Linked DNA regions of Homo sapiens. The protein of the gene in region 3 purifies or fractionates together with the protein of the main gene of each other region. This does not show direct contact. Each region holds a gene or a part of one and is shown on either strand. Other genes may lie near its edges.

Evidence for each region. Proteins that work in one complex are often made in the same cells at the same time.
Region 1: the proteins of ST6GAL1 (region 3) and CIP2A purify together in Homo sapiens (affinity purification with mass spectrometry; one large-scale study listed by BioGRID and IntAct). This does not show direct contact.
Region 2: the proteins of ST6GAL1 (region 3) and ZYG11B purify together in Homo sapiens (affinity purification with mass spectrometry; 2 studies listed by BioGRID and IntAct, with this or other methods). This does not show direct contact.
Region 4: the proteins of ST6GAL1 (region 3) and PLAA purify together in Homo sapiens (affinity purification with mass spectrometry; one large-scale study listed by BioGRID and IntAct). This does not show direct contact.

The regions. Positions count from the first base shown.
Region 1 is NC_000003.12:108,582,641-108,586,438, reverse strand, and holds part of CIP2A (protein CIP2A), read left to right. Parts: intron 1-1,226; coding exon 1,227-1,374; intron 1,375-3,355; coding exon 3,356-3,462; intron 3,463-3,798.
Region 2 is NC_000001.11:52,767,953-52,771,750, forward strand, and holds part of ZYG11B (protein zyg-11 homolog B), read left to right. Parts: intron 1-3,067; coding exon 3,068-3,798. UniProt on the Homo sapiens protein: Serves as substrate adapter subunit in the E3 ubiquitin ligase complex ZYG11B-CUL2-Elongin BC. Acts to target substrates bearing N-terminal degrons for proteasomal degradation with the first four residues of substrates being the key recognition elements.
Region 3 is NC_000003.12:187,065,677-187,071,122, forward strand, and holds part of ST6GAL1 (beta-galactoside alpha-2,6-sialyltransferase 1), read left to right. Parts: intron 1-5,446. UniProt on the Homo sapiens protein: Transfers sialic acid from CMP-sialic acid to galactose-containing acceptor substrates. In B lymphocytes, generates neuraminidase-sensitive lymphocyte cell-surface differentiation antigens, such as CDw75, HB-6 and CD76.
Region 4 is NC_000009.12:26,905,760-26,909,242, reverse strand, and holds part of PLAA (phospholipase A-2-activating protein), read left to right. Parts: intron 1-1,244; coding exon 1,245-1,409; intron 1,410-3,166; coding exon 3,167-3,483. UniProt on the Homo sapiens protein: Plays a role in protein ubiquitination, sorting and degradation through its association with VCP. Involved in ubiquitin-mediated membrane proteins trafficking to late endosomes in an ESCRT-dependent manner, and hence plays a role in synaptic vesicle recycling.

The DNA.
Region 1 (3,798 bases), about 78 Mb from region 3:
GATACAGGACCAATCCTATAGAGAATCATTTTTAAAACAGCAAGTGTCTTATTCTGGAGAGCTAGATTTATAAATAAGCAACAGGGTAATGCCCACAGTATTTCCTACCCCAGAATATCTGTTACTGGCATCTGCACTTTCATATTTGGACTTATTTTTTCTTGTATAGACTTTTACTTTAGTAATGTTAAAACACTCCTTGGGAACAGATAATGTGAAACTCTTATCAGCAAAGCCTTAGAAGAAAAACTGATGTGGGTGAGAGAATAAAGGGAGGATACAGAAAGGAAAGATTAGAGGGATGCTAAAGCAGCCTGCTTAGGCTTGATCTTATTAAAATAAGTATTCAGGACAGAGTTAGTCTTATTCTAAGGTAACTAATGGTTTTGCCATCTTTGTAGAAAAGATATGCTTTGTAATAAATACATCCATAAAGTATGTTGAAAATTCATGCTTTGAGACAACTGCTTTTGGCCTTTAGTTCCAGCTTTACCTCCTCTCTTCTCTCTTTCACTCTGTGTGTGTGTGTGTGTATGTATGTGTCTGTGCATGCGTGTATGTGGCTTATAGATTACAAGAAAGTAAAAAAAACAATGGAATAATCAGAAATAAAATTTTTCAATGCCTTGCCTGGCTACTTAAAAAAAGATTCACTTTTCACTTCCTTCTTTAATCCCTTAACTTCTGAGCTCACCTATTGTCTTTGGGAAGAAGCAGAAGGAATAATCCCATAACTACCCTCTGGGCTTCATTTTTCATTCTCCTCCCTCAAAGTAAGTAGAATGTATTAGAATTTATTTGCATAGTAAATATATTGGTACTAGAGTGCAGATTTGTAGGCTATGCCTTCATCGCATGTTCAATGTAGTGTGAAGGAGAAATATTGCTAGGAACTCAAAAGTTTGCTAACTTAGGAAATAGAAATATAATGTACTATAGGATAGCATAATAGGCCGACCGAACTGAGATGGTATAAGAAACTAAGAAAAGCTTCCTGGTGGAAATTATTTTAAACTGAGATCCAAATGATTACTTTAGCTAGGGAGGGAGGGATTAGGTAATTGATGGGTACTCTAGGCAGGGGTGAATTTTTCACAGCATGTGTGAATTTTTTAAATTGGGAAGGTAGCAGTGGCACTTTGAGGGAACTGAGTTTTTTATTTGAAATGGAGAAGAGATGAAAATTGCCATCGCTTAACCAACACATTTTGATTACTATTTTATAGGTAATTTCTGGACAGAAACTCACACGACTATTTACATCAAATCAGATATTAACAAGTGAATGCTTGAGTTGCCTTGTAGAGCTACTTGAAGACCCCAACATAAGTGCTTCACTGATCTTAAGTATTATCGGTTTGCTGTCTCAACTAGGTAATGCATTTAATTTCTCCTTTTTAGTTTTTGGAAGATGTATGAACAATATTTTAAAGTGCAGGCTTAGTTATAGAATCTCTTAAAGAATGATTCACCTTCAAAGACTTCTCAGTCTAGTGTGCATTGTGAATCTTTTGACACTGAGGAAGTCATAGCTACCGATCAAAGAATGATCCTTCTGTAATAGATTACACTGAATTTAGAACTAAAGGGTAAAAGTACTGATGTTGCTTTTTCTATCTTTTCCCCCATTTCTTTAGTTCTTAAATGTTCATTTAGTGGTCACTACTCCAATTTGGGGCAGGGCGGTGGGGATATTTCTTTGTGTGATTATAATAGTAATATATGCATAGTTTAAAAAATTCTAGTGATCCAGAAGTATTAACACAGAGCAGCATTGTCCAATAAAACTTTCTTCAGTGACAGAATGGTTTTAAAACTGTGTTATCCAATGTAGCAGCCACTAGCCACATGGAGCTATTAAGCATTCGAAGTGTGGGTAATAGACTAAGGAACTGAATCTTTAATTTTAATTAATCTAAATTGAAATAGCCACATGAAGGCTAGTGGCTACCAAATTAGACAGCCCAGACATAGAGTAAAATGGGGTGAGCCTGTACCCATTACCACCAGCCCTCATCTTTTCAGCTTTGAGGGTATAATCTCATTTAATGGTTTGGTATGTTTCTTTGCAGATATTTTTCTGTGCTGTAACAAAACAATACTTTTGGATCTTTAATTGGTTGTTTTCAGCACAAATGGTGTTGTGGAGCACCAGATGTTTCTTTCCATATCAGTATCTTTAATAGCTGCCTAGTGCCTTAATTACAGGGTACTGTAATTTATTCAACTATTCCCCTAATAGTGGACAGTCAACTGTCTTTAAGTTTTTGCTATTGGAATCAATAGTGCAGTGAACATTCTATGTAATTTTGCTCAAATATTAGTGTGTTTCTATTAGATAAATTCCATTAGAATTTCTAGATCATTCTAAAATTTGATAACCGTTACTAAATTGCTTTCTGAAAAGATTCTTCCACTTCTAACATCCACCAACAGTTTGAATGAATATGCCAGTCACTTCCAGTGTTTATACTTTAGAAGCATTTGAGGTTTCCAGAAAAATTGAAATGATAATCTTTTTAAATTAATTTTTTCACAGATACATAATATTTATACAAACTTATGGGGTACATATGATATTTTGTTACCTGCATAAAGTATGTGATGATCAATTGAGGGTATTTAGGATATCCATCACAAATGAGGATTTATCATTTCTATGTATTTAGAACATTTCAAGTCATATTTTGAAATATACAATACATTGTTAACTATAGTCACCTTACTCTACTATCAAACATTAGAACTTATTCCATCTGATTGTGTGTTTATATCCATTAATCAATCTGTCTTCATCTCCCCCACTAACGGCTCCCCCTCACACCTCCCATCACCACACACTCACCCATATTCTTCCCAGCCTCTGGTAACTGTCATTCTCCACTTCCATGAGATCAACTTTTTTAGCTCCTACACATGAATGAATACATGCAATATTTTTCTTTCTGTGTCTGGCTTATTTCACTTAACCTAATGGCCTTCAGTTCCATCCGTGTTGCTGCAAATGGCATGCATTCTTTTATATGGCCAAATAGTATTCCATTGTGTAAATATACCATAAAGTGATAATCTTTTAATATTCAAAGTAAATGATTTTAATTTGATACTAAAATAATTAGTATCAAAGAAAAAGCTTGCTACAAATGTGTAAACAAGTTTTTTCTTTGATACTAGTTTATTTTACATAGAGAAATCATTTGAATTTCTGAATTGGAGGGTTATCATAAAGAAAATAAGAAAATAGCCATATCATACCTTTTTTAATAATAAATTCATATGAAATAAATTCTGTATGAATTATCTGCAAAACCTTGTAAGAAAATGATATATTTTGTGCTTTTATTTTAACTTATAGCAGTAGACATTGAAACCAGAGATTGTCTTCAGAATACATATAATCTGAATAGTGTGCTGGCGGGAGTGGTTTGTCGGAGCAGCCACACTGATTCGGTGTTTTTGCAGGTATACAGACCCACACAGTGTATTCCCCTTTCCTTACTGTCAGATCAAAATTGATAGTTTCTGTCATAAACTGCTGACTTACAGTGTATATATGCTATATAATAAATACTACATGATTAGGCACAGTTCATCTCATTAAAAGCTGGTTGCACACATACAATTTAAATGTTTCTAGAGAAGAGAAGCTTATCCATTTCTATCACCACTATTGAAGAAAAACAAATCTACATTATAACTGCTTTGACTTATAAACACAGATGTCTGTGTTTTGAGACATAAGCTATTTATATTAAAATTGTAACGTGAGTTGGCATCTAGTCTCAATCTGTGGAGGAA
Region 2 (3,798 bases), on a different chromosome or scaffold from region 3:
GTTCTTACTACCCAGCAGGAATGAAAGTCCTTGCTCTCTACTCAGACTTCTCTAACACCTCCCCTGTGGGCAGATTGGGGCAAGTAATTACAGCCTGGCAGGGGTAGAAATCTAGGCCCCTATTGGCATTTGCTGGCATGGGTGGAGCTGCAGTTTTTTCTGTCGTGTTTGGCTGAAGTAGAGCAGTTACTGTCTACTAGCTGTTTCCTGTCTTACTAGTTGCTGCTTTCCTGGTACGTTGGCTAGAGAGAGCAGATTTTGGGGGAGGTTTTTGTCTGTGCCCATTGGTGTTTCCAGGCTGCTGGCTCCTTCAACTTTAGATCTGGGATATATGACCAGAAAAAAACCAGGAACTTTTCTGCGTTGTTCCATGGGTCCCAAGGTCCCCCCTAGCTGATCTGCTTTCATCTCTTCACCTTTCAGAGTGATCTAGCTCCAGCTCACCTTCAGCCTCATTTCTTCTGTCCCATTTGCATGCTTATATCCCCAGAAATGCACTGCATCTATGGCTCTAGCTATTTCTTATGTTCAAGCAATATAGAAAGAACTACTTGCCATTTCCTAACCCCGTGATATGCTTTCACATCTTTAAGACTTTGCTTATGTTGTATATTCTTGCTTTAATATACCTAACCTTCTTCCTCTTTTTTTTTTTTTTTTGAAATGGAGTCTTGCTCTGACGCCCAGGCTGGAGTGCAGTGGCGCCATCTCGGCTCACTGCAGCCTCCGCCTCCCAAGTTCGAGTGATTCTCTGCCTCAACCTCCCAAGTAGCTGGTATTACAGGCGCGCACCACCACACCCATTTAATTTTTGCATTTTTAGTAGAAACGCGGTTTTGCCACGTTGGCCAGGCTGGTCTCGAATTCCTGGCCTCAGGTGATCCATCCGCCTCGGCCTCCCAAAATGCTGGCATTATAGGCATGAGCCACTGCACCTGGCCTACTAACCTCCTTTCTCTATCTTTGAATTCTTCCAGCATTTTCAAAGGCCTTACTCAAAGATCACCTCTCCCATCAAATCTTTTCCAGATCTTCATTCATGATGGTTTACTTCCTTTTCTTTGTTTTTGTGATACTTTATACTTGACATTGATATACCATATATCTCATTTTGTTATGGCTGTTTGTGTCTTTTTTACTCCATGGGATTATGAATCCTTTGACTATAGGGGCATATCTTATTTTTCTTTGTATCTACAACATTTAGAGTACTTGACATATAGTAATTGTTTAATAAACTGTTTGCTGAATGGACCCCATCATGAAATTTACTCTCCTGAAATAGAGTGCAGGTAATTTGAAAGGCTGTCTCTAGAACTACATTGTTTAATCGAAATGTAATTTTAAATTTACCGGTGGCCACATAAAAAAATAAAAAGAAAAACAAGTGCAACGAGTTTTAATAATTTTTATTTAACCCAATATATTAAAAAATGATCATTTCAACCTGTAGTATATATAAAAAATTGAGATACTTTACATTATTTTGTTGTATTAAGTCTTCACAATCTGGTGTATATTTTGTACTTTATAGCTGACCTCACTTTGTACCACCTGCTTTCCAAGTGCTCTCCAGCTGTGTGGAGCTAGTGACTATGTATTGGGCAGCACAGCTCTAAAATGTAATGGAGTTCTTAATATGTAATTAGTCATTTTTGTCCACTTTGGCAGGTTTTGCACAGGCCTTTCTTGATTTTAACTGTGTAACTGTAATTAAGTCTGCAAAACTCATTAGAGAATAGTGCTCCCTTTTAAAAACACCTCATTTCTAATTTAAGGGTGACTGGCTGGCAGCCTAGCTGCATTTTGAGTATGGGCCAGCTAAGATGCCGCCTTAGAGTTCCTCTCATGACTTCAGGCTATTTATTTACCTGTCCTCAACTGCTCATTCACCCCATACTATTCTTAGACTACCTGTTTTTGGCATGATTGTTACTTCTTTCACAGTCAATGTTGTTTAGTTGATATGTGATATGTTGATGTGCCTCCAGAGTATCATATGCTTGTGACACTGTTGATTGGTAGACAGGTAGATCTCGAAGGCACTTCAAGAGGTTACTGTGTCGACTTCATTTACATTCATCTGCAGGAGGGGGAGTGTGGGGGGAAGCTGTAACTACTATATATATATATATATATATTTTTTTTTTTTTTTCAGAGACAGGTTCTCACTCTGTCACCCAGGCTGGTGTGCAATGGTGCAATCATAATTCACTATAACCACAAACTCCTGGGCTCAAATGATCCTTCCATCTCAGCCTCCCTAGTAGCTAGGACTATAGGCATGACCACTGTGCCCAACTCGTTTTCAGTTATTTTGCAGAGATGGGGTCTTGCTATGTTTCCCAGGCCTAGATCGCTTTAATAAGGTTTGAGATCTGGCTAGTGGTTTATTAATGAATTACAAGGCATTAAGTGCATGCTAAATATATTATGTGTATATGTGTTTGTATAATAATATGTTAAGGTGAATTTAAAGGATAGGCTAGAAATGTATTGGTAACAAATCAAATACCTTAACACAAGGTTTATACCTCACTTGTGGTACATAAACTCTGCAAGTCCATAGAGGATTCTGCTTCATGGTCACCCTAGGGTCCAAACTGATGGAGGGTTTCTCCTCATATAACTATACTCTCTAGAACGTGAAGTCTCCTCGTTTGTCATAGCAGGAAAAGACAGCATGGAAAATCATGCACTGGCTCTCAGGTGCTTCAACATATAGTGCATTGGCCAGAACTAGGCACATGGCTCCAGCTAACTCCAGGGATGGGCTGGGAAATGTAGTTGTCTGGTAAGGTAAGAACTAGATGTTAGTGGATATCAATAATGTCTGCCACAGTCCTGATTCTGCCACTTGCTAGCCCTGTGATCTTGGAAAGCCACTCTCTGAGCCCCAGTTTACTCATCTACAAGTTGTAAACAATAATAATCTCACCTAAATGAATTGTGATTATCAGACGAGATACTGTTACATGGGAGCGCTTTGGAAATGTAAAGTGTGATGGAAATTTTGGCTATTCTTTAACTGTTTTTTGAATTTAAAACGCTGCTTGTTTTTCCACAGGTCTATTGAATGATGGAACTGTGGGTATTTTTAGGGGCAACCAGATGCGCTTAAAGCGAGCCTGCATTCGCAAAGCAAAGATCTCTGCTGTTGCTTTCCGGAAAGCTTTCTGCCACCACAAGTTAGTGGAACTTGATGCCACAGGTGTGAATGCTGATATCACGATTACAGACATTATCAGTGGGCTTGGCAGTAACAAATGGATCCAGCAGAATCTCCAGTGCCTGGTGCTGAATTCATTAACTCTCTCCCTCGAGGATCCTTACGAGCGCTGCTTCAGCCGGCTTTCTGGCCTTCGAGCTTTAAGCATCACGAATGTTCTCTTTTACAATGAAGACCTGGCTGAAGTTGCCTCATTGCCAAGATTAGAGAGCTTGGATATTTCTAACACCTCAATCACAGACATCACTGCTCTACTGGCCTGCAAAGACCGACTCAAGTCTCTAACCATGCACCACTTGAAATGTTTAAAAATGACAACTACCCAGATACTGGATGTAGTTCGGGAACTCAAACATCTGAATCATCTTGATATCTCAGATGATAAACAGTTTACATCAGACATAGCTCTTCGCTTACTAGAACAAAAAGACATCCTACCTAACCTTGTTTCTCTGGATGTTTCTGGGAGAAAGCACGTGACAGATAAAGCCGTTGAAGCCTTTATACAACAACGTCCAAGCATGCAATTTGTAGGTTTGCTGGCTACTGATGCTGGTTACTCTGAATTC
Region 3 (5,446 bases):
CTAGCTGGAGAGAGAAGACCTACTTCCTATATGCCTAGCAACAGTCCACACTGACTGGACTGCAACCAGGACATTTCCAGATTACTCAGTGGGGCTTATCTTGAAATAATAGTTGATGCCATTTGTTAAATATATTATATATACCATCTAAGGGTCTTACATGCCTTCTCTCATTTGATCTTCATGGCAAACCCTGTGAGGTATGACCACCAACCACCATTTTACCTCAGAACTCAGGCTCCCAGAGTTTAAGTTGCTCACAGGAGCCCAGAAAGTAAGCGACAGAGGTGGGATTTGGTTCTAGGTGTTTGCCACCAGCACTTTAAATCACCAAAGCTTTCTGGAAGCTCCAACTTTTCTTCTCAAGATACTGAAAGACAGGTATCTGGATGGGTTGGCAGGGCGGGTGGGAGGTGGGCGAGATTTCCATCAACAACGGGTCTAAAACCAGCGATGGTGAGCTGGGTGATTTTGATGGAACCCCTGCCATACAGTCTATTAATATCATAATTGGAGCTAAAATTTAATCATGATGGCAATCATGAGTTCTGGGGCTTCTTGATTTGGGCCAGCAGACACAGTCTCAGTCACTAGTTCTCCGAATCAGAGAAAGGATGCCTTCAGGCTGTGTCTTCACATGGCTTTTCCTCTGTGCGTGGTGGAAAGAGAGAGCTCTGCGGGTCTCTTCTTGTTGTAAGGACACTGGCCCCATTGGATTAGGGCCCCACCACATGACACATTTAATCCTAATTACCTCCCTCACAGCCCTATTTCCAAACAGGGTATTAGTCACATTAGGGATTAGGGCTTCAACATAGGAATTCTGGGGGCACACAATTCAGTCTATAACAGAGGGAAAACAGATTTGAGAAGAAAAAAGTCCAAAATATGCACAGTGGTAATATCTGAAGATGTGCGTGCGTGCGTGTGTGTGTGTGTGTGTGTGTGTGTGTGTTTCTATTCTTGCATTTTCTAACTGTCCCCAGTGAGTATTTGTTACTTTCTAACTGAGAAGGTTACTTTAAACAGTGTCTTGAGCAGCAGCACTCCATGCCCTGGTGTAGCCTTTTCCTGGCAGATGTTCCCCAGGGCTCTGCTGCTCTGCCAATGACTTATTCTCAGCATGAACTCCTCCCCTGCCCCCTAAGAGGATCTCCAAACCCAGGTCACACTCCCCCTGCAGGTAAGTACAGGCGTTTGAGAACAGCTTTATTCTTCCAGGAACAGCTGGTCCCCTCAGCAGGGCCTTACAAGGTGGTTATGTCTAAATAAGGCACCTGAGGCCAGGAGATGTGACATGGTCCATCTAATACCATGGAGTGAGTTAGACACAGAGCAGGACTGGAACCCATGCTTCCAATTCCCCATCCAGTTTTAAGGCAATCTTCTTTTCTTTCTTTCTTTCTTTTTTTTTTTTTTTTTTTTTTTTTTGGAGACAGAGTCTCTGTCACCCAGGCTGGAGTGCAGTGGTGCGATCTTGGCTCACTGCAACCTCTGCCTCCGGGGTTCAAGCGATTCTCCTGCCTCAGCCTTCTGAGTAGCTGAGATTTCAGGTGCCCGCCACCACGCCTGGCTAATTTTTGTATTTTTAGTAGAGACGAGGTTTTACTATGTTGGCCAGGGTGATCTCGAACTCCTGACCTCAAGTGATCTGCCCACCTCAGCTTCCCAAAGTGCTGGGATTACAGGTGTGAGCCACTGCACCTGGCAAGGCAACCTTTTTTTTTTTTTTTTTTTTTGGTAGAAAATCTTTGAACTTCATATAGATGGTGTTAATGTGGGTGAGTTCAGAGCCATGTGTAAAGTTCCAGGAGGGGAGTGCTTGCTGGCTTCTCCCTTATCCCTCAACCAGATCCCAGCCCCAGCCACTTTCTGTTTCTCTTCTCTGGATAAAACTATCATTCATCTTCACCTGTTTCTATTTTCATGGATTACTGTCTCATTCATCTCAAGTAGCTCAAGTGAATGGCTGTTTTTCCATTGGATACAGGAAGACTGAGGGTGACCTGACCCTCATGGTGTGCTTGCTTATTTGAATGTCTGATGGTTTTATGGGTGTAGTCCTGCTGGAGCAGAAAGAATATCTGTTAGGAGCCTGCCTCTGGGCTCTGGTTCTAACTGTGCCACAAACTCATCGTAGCCTTAGACAATTCTCTTGTCTCTCTGGGCCTCAGTTTACCCATCTGGAAAATGATGGGTCTGAATTTAATACCTTGAGTATCATCCAGCTGTGACATACTACAACTCAGGCAAGAAGCAAATTCTCCTGACACTCCATACTCCTATCCAGTGTTCTCTGACGTCCTTCCCCAAGAGCTGTGGTACCCTACCCTGCCCACATTATGTGAGGCATTATAGCACATAGGTTAGAAGTGTGGTCTCTGGGCCGGGTGTGGTGGCTCATGCCTGTAATCCCAACACTTTGGGAGGCCGAGGCAGGTGGATCACGAGGTCAGGAGATCAAGACCATCCTGGCTAACACAGTGAAACCCCATCTCTACTAAAAATACAAAAAATTAGCTGGGTGTGGTGGCACATGTCTGTCGTACCAGCTACTTGGGAGGCTGAGGCAGGAGAATCACTTGAACCTGGGTGGCGGAGGTTGCAGTGAGCCAAGATCGTGCCACTGCACTCCAGCCTGGGCAACAGAGCGAGACTCCATCTCAAAAAAAAAAAAAAAAAAGAAGTGTGGTCTCTGGAGCTAGACCTAAGAATCCAATTCAGACTCTCTTACTTACTGACTGTGTAATTTGGACAAGTTACTTAGCATTTAGCATCTCTATTTCTTTAATCATAAAATGAACATATTAACACTTACTTCCTAGGGCTGTTGTGAAGATAAACTGAGTTGAGGTATGACAGTACCTAGCATGTAGTAAGCATCATTAAATGGTGTCTGTTGTTTTCACATATTGTAAAGAAGAAAGCTTCGTGCATCTCTTGGAATTTCTGAGGACGGTGAAGCCACAGCTGGGAAAGTCTCAGGGAGCCAGGAGTTGCTGGCCTCCTGCTTTGCATACTCAAAATTGCTGGAAAGGGGCTATAGCAGGGGGAGACATTTTTTAAAAATCCCAGTTATTGCTATTCCTCATGAGTATGTATATATCACCTGGCATCAGTACTCTGCATAGAAAGAAGCATAGCTAAAGAAAAGACACTTTGCTTTTAATATAACAGCTGTTTTCAGGGGAATAGGGTGGATGAGGATAGGGAGTACTGGCCCTCTGTCCTCAGGCCTCCCTGTCACCAGCTCAGTCACGTCTATCTTACAAATCCCCATCTAGCAGGAAGCCTGCTCTGCCCTTGGACTATAGACCTGAAGGGCTGTTGTTAAGTTACAACGTTCCCAGTGGAAGGAGGACAGTACTTAAAAGTTACAAGATGTGGGTTCTGTTCTTAGTTCTTATGGCCTGTCAGCCAGGGAACTCCTGGCCAGTAGTCTCATCCTTGAACTTCTTCTTTTTTTTTTTTTTTCTCAAGACGGAGTCTCGCTCTGTCGCCAGGCTAGAGTGCAGTGGCACGATCTTGGCTCACTGCAACCTCTGCCTCCTGAGTTCAAGCTATTCGCCTGCCTCAGCCTTCCAAGTAGCTGGGATTACAGGTGCTTGCCACCACGCCTGGCTAATTTTTGTATTTTTGGTAGAGACAGGGTTTCGCCATGTTGGCCAGGCTGGTCTTGAACTCCTGACCTCAAGTGAGCCCAGCCCTCATCCTTGAACTTCAAATTTCCACCCCACCTTACTCCCACAGGCATATACCAGTTGTTCCTTTTTCTCTGTTCTTATGCAGGAAATGGCCTGAGGTCCAGGAGTCCCCTTGGTCCCCTTTTTCCCTCACTCTCAACATTCAATTAGTCTTCACATCTACAGCCGACAATTGTAACTTCTTTTCTTTACTCCATTATTTCTTAGGTGACAACAGGAGCTTCTTTGTGGTCTTCTTTTTTCTAAAAACACTAATTCAGAACTCTAGCATGTTTAGATCTTCCTTACTTAAAACCCTTTCCTGGTCCCCATAACCTACTGAAGAAATCCTAAGCTCCCTGGCTTGGCCTCTGTCTACATTTCTCTGATCTCTTCCAGCTCTTTCTCTGTATCCTAGCCATACTGAACTACTTGCAATTCCCAAACAGGGTACACACTGTACTAGTTGTTCCTGCAAGAGACAGGAACACACATCCCCCCACACTAGCTTAACAAAACAAAAAATGCATTTCTCTCTCATGCAAAAGAAGTCCAAAAGTAGACATTCCAAACTTAATATGGTGTTCCAGTGTCAGAATCCAAGTTCTTTCTACTTTGTGGGTTTGCCGTTCTCAGCATATGACTTCCACTTTATGGTCCAAAATGACTGCTCAAGCTCCAGCCATCACATCCACATTTCAGCCAGGAGGAAGAAGGAACAAGGAAAGGCATAACCTTGCCTCTAAGGATAGTTCCTGGAAGCCACACTTGCTTACATTCCATTGGCCAGAATTAGTCACCCAGCCATATTTATCTATAAGAGAGGCTATGAAATTTTTTTATTTCAGGGAGTCTATTTTAGGTTGCCATGTGCAAAAGTAAAAACCAGAGGTGTTGGTGGTCAAGGAAGAAATAGCGAATGGATGCTGGGTAACATCTGGCAGTCTCTGCCACACACTCACACATTCAGGGGTTTGCACGTGGTTCCCCGTGTCTCAGACACCCCCTCTCTCATGCTTACAGTCTCTGCTTGGCATCTTCTTTTTTGCCCCCTAACACTTGCTCTTTTTTTTTTTTTTTTTTTTCGAGATGGAGTCTCACTGTTGCCAGGCTGGAGTGCAGTGGTGCAATCTTGGCTCACGGCAACCTCCGCCTCCTGGGTTCAAGTGATTCTCCTGCCTCAGCCTCCCGAGTAGCTGGGACTACAGGCACCCGCCACCATGCCCGGCTAATGTTTGTATTTTCAGTAGAGACGGGGTTTCACCATGTTGGCCAGGATGGTCTCAATCTCTTGACCTTGTGATCCACCCGCCTCGGCCTCCCAAAGTGCTGGGATTACAGGTGTGAGCCACCGCACCCGGCCCAACACTCGCTCACTTTATGGCCATCCTCATACTACCTCTGTTGTTGCACCATCACAGCGTGTTAACCATTGTTCAATTGTCCACCTTTCCCACTACCCTGTGACCTCCTGGAGGGCAGGGACTGTGTCTTTCCTTTGGCTCCTTAGCACCCAGTATAGCTGCACAATCTCCAGCCAAGGTAGACCGACCACCAATATTTCTTGTCTCAAAGATATATTGAGGAAATGAGAGTATATTCTTCAGGCTTCCAGGAACTTCCTTACATCTGTAGGAAGGTATGGGCATGGGGATAGCTCAGTGATTGTAGAGGCTCGTGGCAGATTGCTTGCTATTCTTTGGGTTGCACACAGGCCGTCTCTCTTGCCATAGTTTTTTCCAGATACTGCAGTGACATTGATT
Region 4 (3,483 bases), on a different chromosome or scaffold from region 3:
TGAGATTAGTGAAACAGGCCCTAGTTTCCATTTATAATTGATTTCAATGGTGTAAATTTGGATAATTTTCCTTATTATCGGAATTTGGACTTTTTTATTCTTGAGATAAAGATTTTTAAAGAAACACAGTAACTCAAAGTCATGATACAAAGGATACTGATACTAAAGATACATGCGAAGGATTTGAAGGAAATTGTTTCATGAAATGAGAACATGGGAAGAAAGGGCAGTATGTCCATTAAATAAATTTTTAAAATAATGTGACATCAAATATGCATATGGAACTAAGTCATAAATTAAATGTTATCAGTAGGCATTTAACTCTTTGACTATTTCATTGACAGCTGTAGAATTTGACATAAATTGGCTAAAAAGTTGTTATAAATTTTCTCATGGAGAAACTAGGTTATTGACTTACACTTGAATATATATTACACATGATACTGCTTTGAAAGTCATCCAAAATGGAGGCCGGACGTGGTGGCTCATGCCTGTAATGCCAGCACTTTGGGAGTTCAAGGCAGGTGGGTCACTTGAGGTCAGGAGTTTTTCACCATGTTGGTCAGCCTGGCCAACATGGTGAAACCCCATCTCTACTAAAAATACAAAAATTAGCTGGTGTGGTGGTGCATGCTGGTAGTTCCAGCTACTCGGGAGGCTGAGGCAGGAGAATCGCTTGAAAATCCTGATGGCGGAGGTTGCAGTGAGCCGAGATCATGCCACTGCACTCCAGCCTGGGCAACAGAGTGAGACTCCATCTCAAAATAATAATAATAAGGCCAGGCGTGGTGGCTCACACCTGTAATCACAGCACTTCGGGAGGCTAAGGAGGGTGGACCACGAGGTCAGGAGATTGAGACCATCCTGGCTAATGTGGTGAAACCCCGTCTCTACTAAAAACACAAAAAATTAGCCAGGCATGGTGGCAGGCGCCTATAGTCCCAGCTACTCAGGAGGCTGAGGCAGGAGAATTGCTTGAACCTGGGGGGCGAGCTTGCAGTGAGCCAAGATGGCGCCACTGCACTCCAGCCTGGGCGACTGAGCAGGACTCCATCTCAAAAAAAAAAAAAAAAAAGACAAAGCTCATAAGCCTTATCCTTACTTTATGGTGTTTGATAATTGCTGAGTAAAGTCTTAACTCCCCATGGTGTACACTAGAGTACTTTTATTGAAAGTCTTGGCATTTATATATTATCTGGCCAATTACAGTTAGAGAATTTTGAAAGTTTGGTTTTGGGTTCTAGGTAAACTGAAGGAACTTAATGGAACTGCACCTGAAGAGAAGAAGTTAACTGAGGATGACTTGATACTTCTTGAGAAGATACTGTCTCTAATATGTAATAGTTCTTCAGAAAAACCCACAGTCCAGCAACTTCAGATTTTGTGGAAAGCTATTAACTGTCCTGAAGGTAAATAAACACTCTTCAAAAATGTAACCAGAAAGCAAGAAGTTTTATCTTCATTTCTATCAATATTACTGGTATTTGTGGATTAAATGAAAGTTAACTTCGGTAGTTCTAAATCACTATGGAAAATCTTCACGAAAAGGGTTCACTACACTACTGGAATTGATGATCTTGTTTCCGTTACATGCCTTTTGAGAATCTGAAGGTAATATATGATCCCCATATATGCACCAGTTTGTTTTTTTGTTGTTGTTGTTTGTTTTCTTTGTTTTTTTGTTTTGTTTTGTTTTTGTTTTTGAAATGGAGTCTTGCTCTGTCGCCCAGGCTGGAGTGCAGTGGCGTGATCTCGGCTCACTGCAAGCTCACTGCAAGCTCCGCCTCCCGGGTTCACGCCGTTCTCCTGCCTCAGCCTCCTTAGTAGCTGGGACTATAGGCACCCGCCACCATGCCCGGCTAATTTTTTGTATTTTTAGTAGAGACGGGGTTTCACCACGTTAGCCAGGATGGTCTCAATCTCCTGACCTCGTGATCCTCCCGCCTCAGCCTGGGATTACAGGCGTGAGCCACCGCGCCCGGGCATGCACCTGTTTGTTTACTGTTTCAGAGCATTTGTGGATTCCTGGCCAGGCATCCAAGATACTCTTAGTGACCTGTTAACCCTAGGCTACAAATATTTACTGTAAGTTTTTTTTTTTCCAATTATGTCAGTTAAGTCTTTTTTAATTCTCAAAGAGTCCTTGCCTGTTATTTTTTTTTATGCCACTGATTTATTGGAGAAAAAGTCTTTTTTTTTTTTTTTTCAATAAAATGTCCCATATTATGGATTTTGCTGATGTGTTCCTCCATCTCTGTATTTATTGCTAGTGGCAAAATTAGATTCTGGTTCAGTAGGTGTTTTTTTTTTAGGTGAAATCCTTTATAAATGATGATGCATACTACTTTTACATTACGGAGCACATAATGTTGGATTTCCTCACCTTTAGTGATGCTAAGATTATTTTGTGCATTCATTCAGATGGCATCTACCCAGGCCCTTGATTATAAAGCTCCCACCAACCTATAAGCATCCTATCACTTGTTAACTGGAATTCTTCTCTTAAGAACTTTCCGGCTGGGCACGGTGGCTCATGCCTGTAATCCCAGCACTTTGGGAGACCAACTTGGGTAGATCACCTGAAGTCAGGAGTTTGAGACCAGCCTGACCAATATGATGAAACCTCGTCTCTACTAACAATACAAAAATTAGCTGGGCGTGGTGACGTGCACCTGTAATTCCAGCTACTTGGGAGGCTGAGACAGGAGAATTGCTTGAACCCGGGAGGTGGAGGTTGCAGTGAGCCGAGATCATGCCATTGCAATCCAGCCTGGGCAACAGGAGTGAAACTGTCTCAAAAAAAAAAAAAAAAAAAAAAAGAACTTTCCCTGTTTAATTGTTCGGTCTTACAGAATTTTTTAAAAGCAAAGTCTGCACCCCATTCTTTCCATTCATTTTTGAATACTCACAGTGTGTAGGCTGTTTGAGAGAGTTACCTTATTTTTAAAGCGAATATGATCTTACAGCAATAAATCTAGTTTATATAAATATGAAAAATTAACAAAAGTTTCAGAAATATATGCATTTTTTTTAAAGCAGACACATGATTTTTCACATTTTCTAAAATGGTTAGTTTTGCAGTGGGAAAATAAAATCCTTCAAAGTCGATAGTCAAAAGAAATTTTCTTTATTTTCATAAGCATTAATGACTTTTTTTTTTTAATAGATATTGTCTTTCCTGCACTTGACATTCTTCGGTTGTCAATTAAACACCCCAGTGTGAATGAGAACTTCTGCAATGAAAAGGAAGGGGCTCAGTTCAGCAGTCATCTTATCAATCTTCTGAACCCTAAAGGAAAGCCAGCAAACCAGCTGCTTGCTCTCAGGACTTTTTGCAATTGTTTTGTTGGCCAGGCAGGACAAAAACTCATGATGTCCCAGAGGGAATCACTGATGTCCCATGCAATAGAACTGAAATCAGGGAGCAATAAGAACATTCACATTGCTCTGGCTACATTGGCCCTGAACTATTCTGTTTGTTTT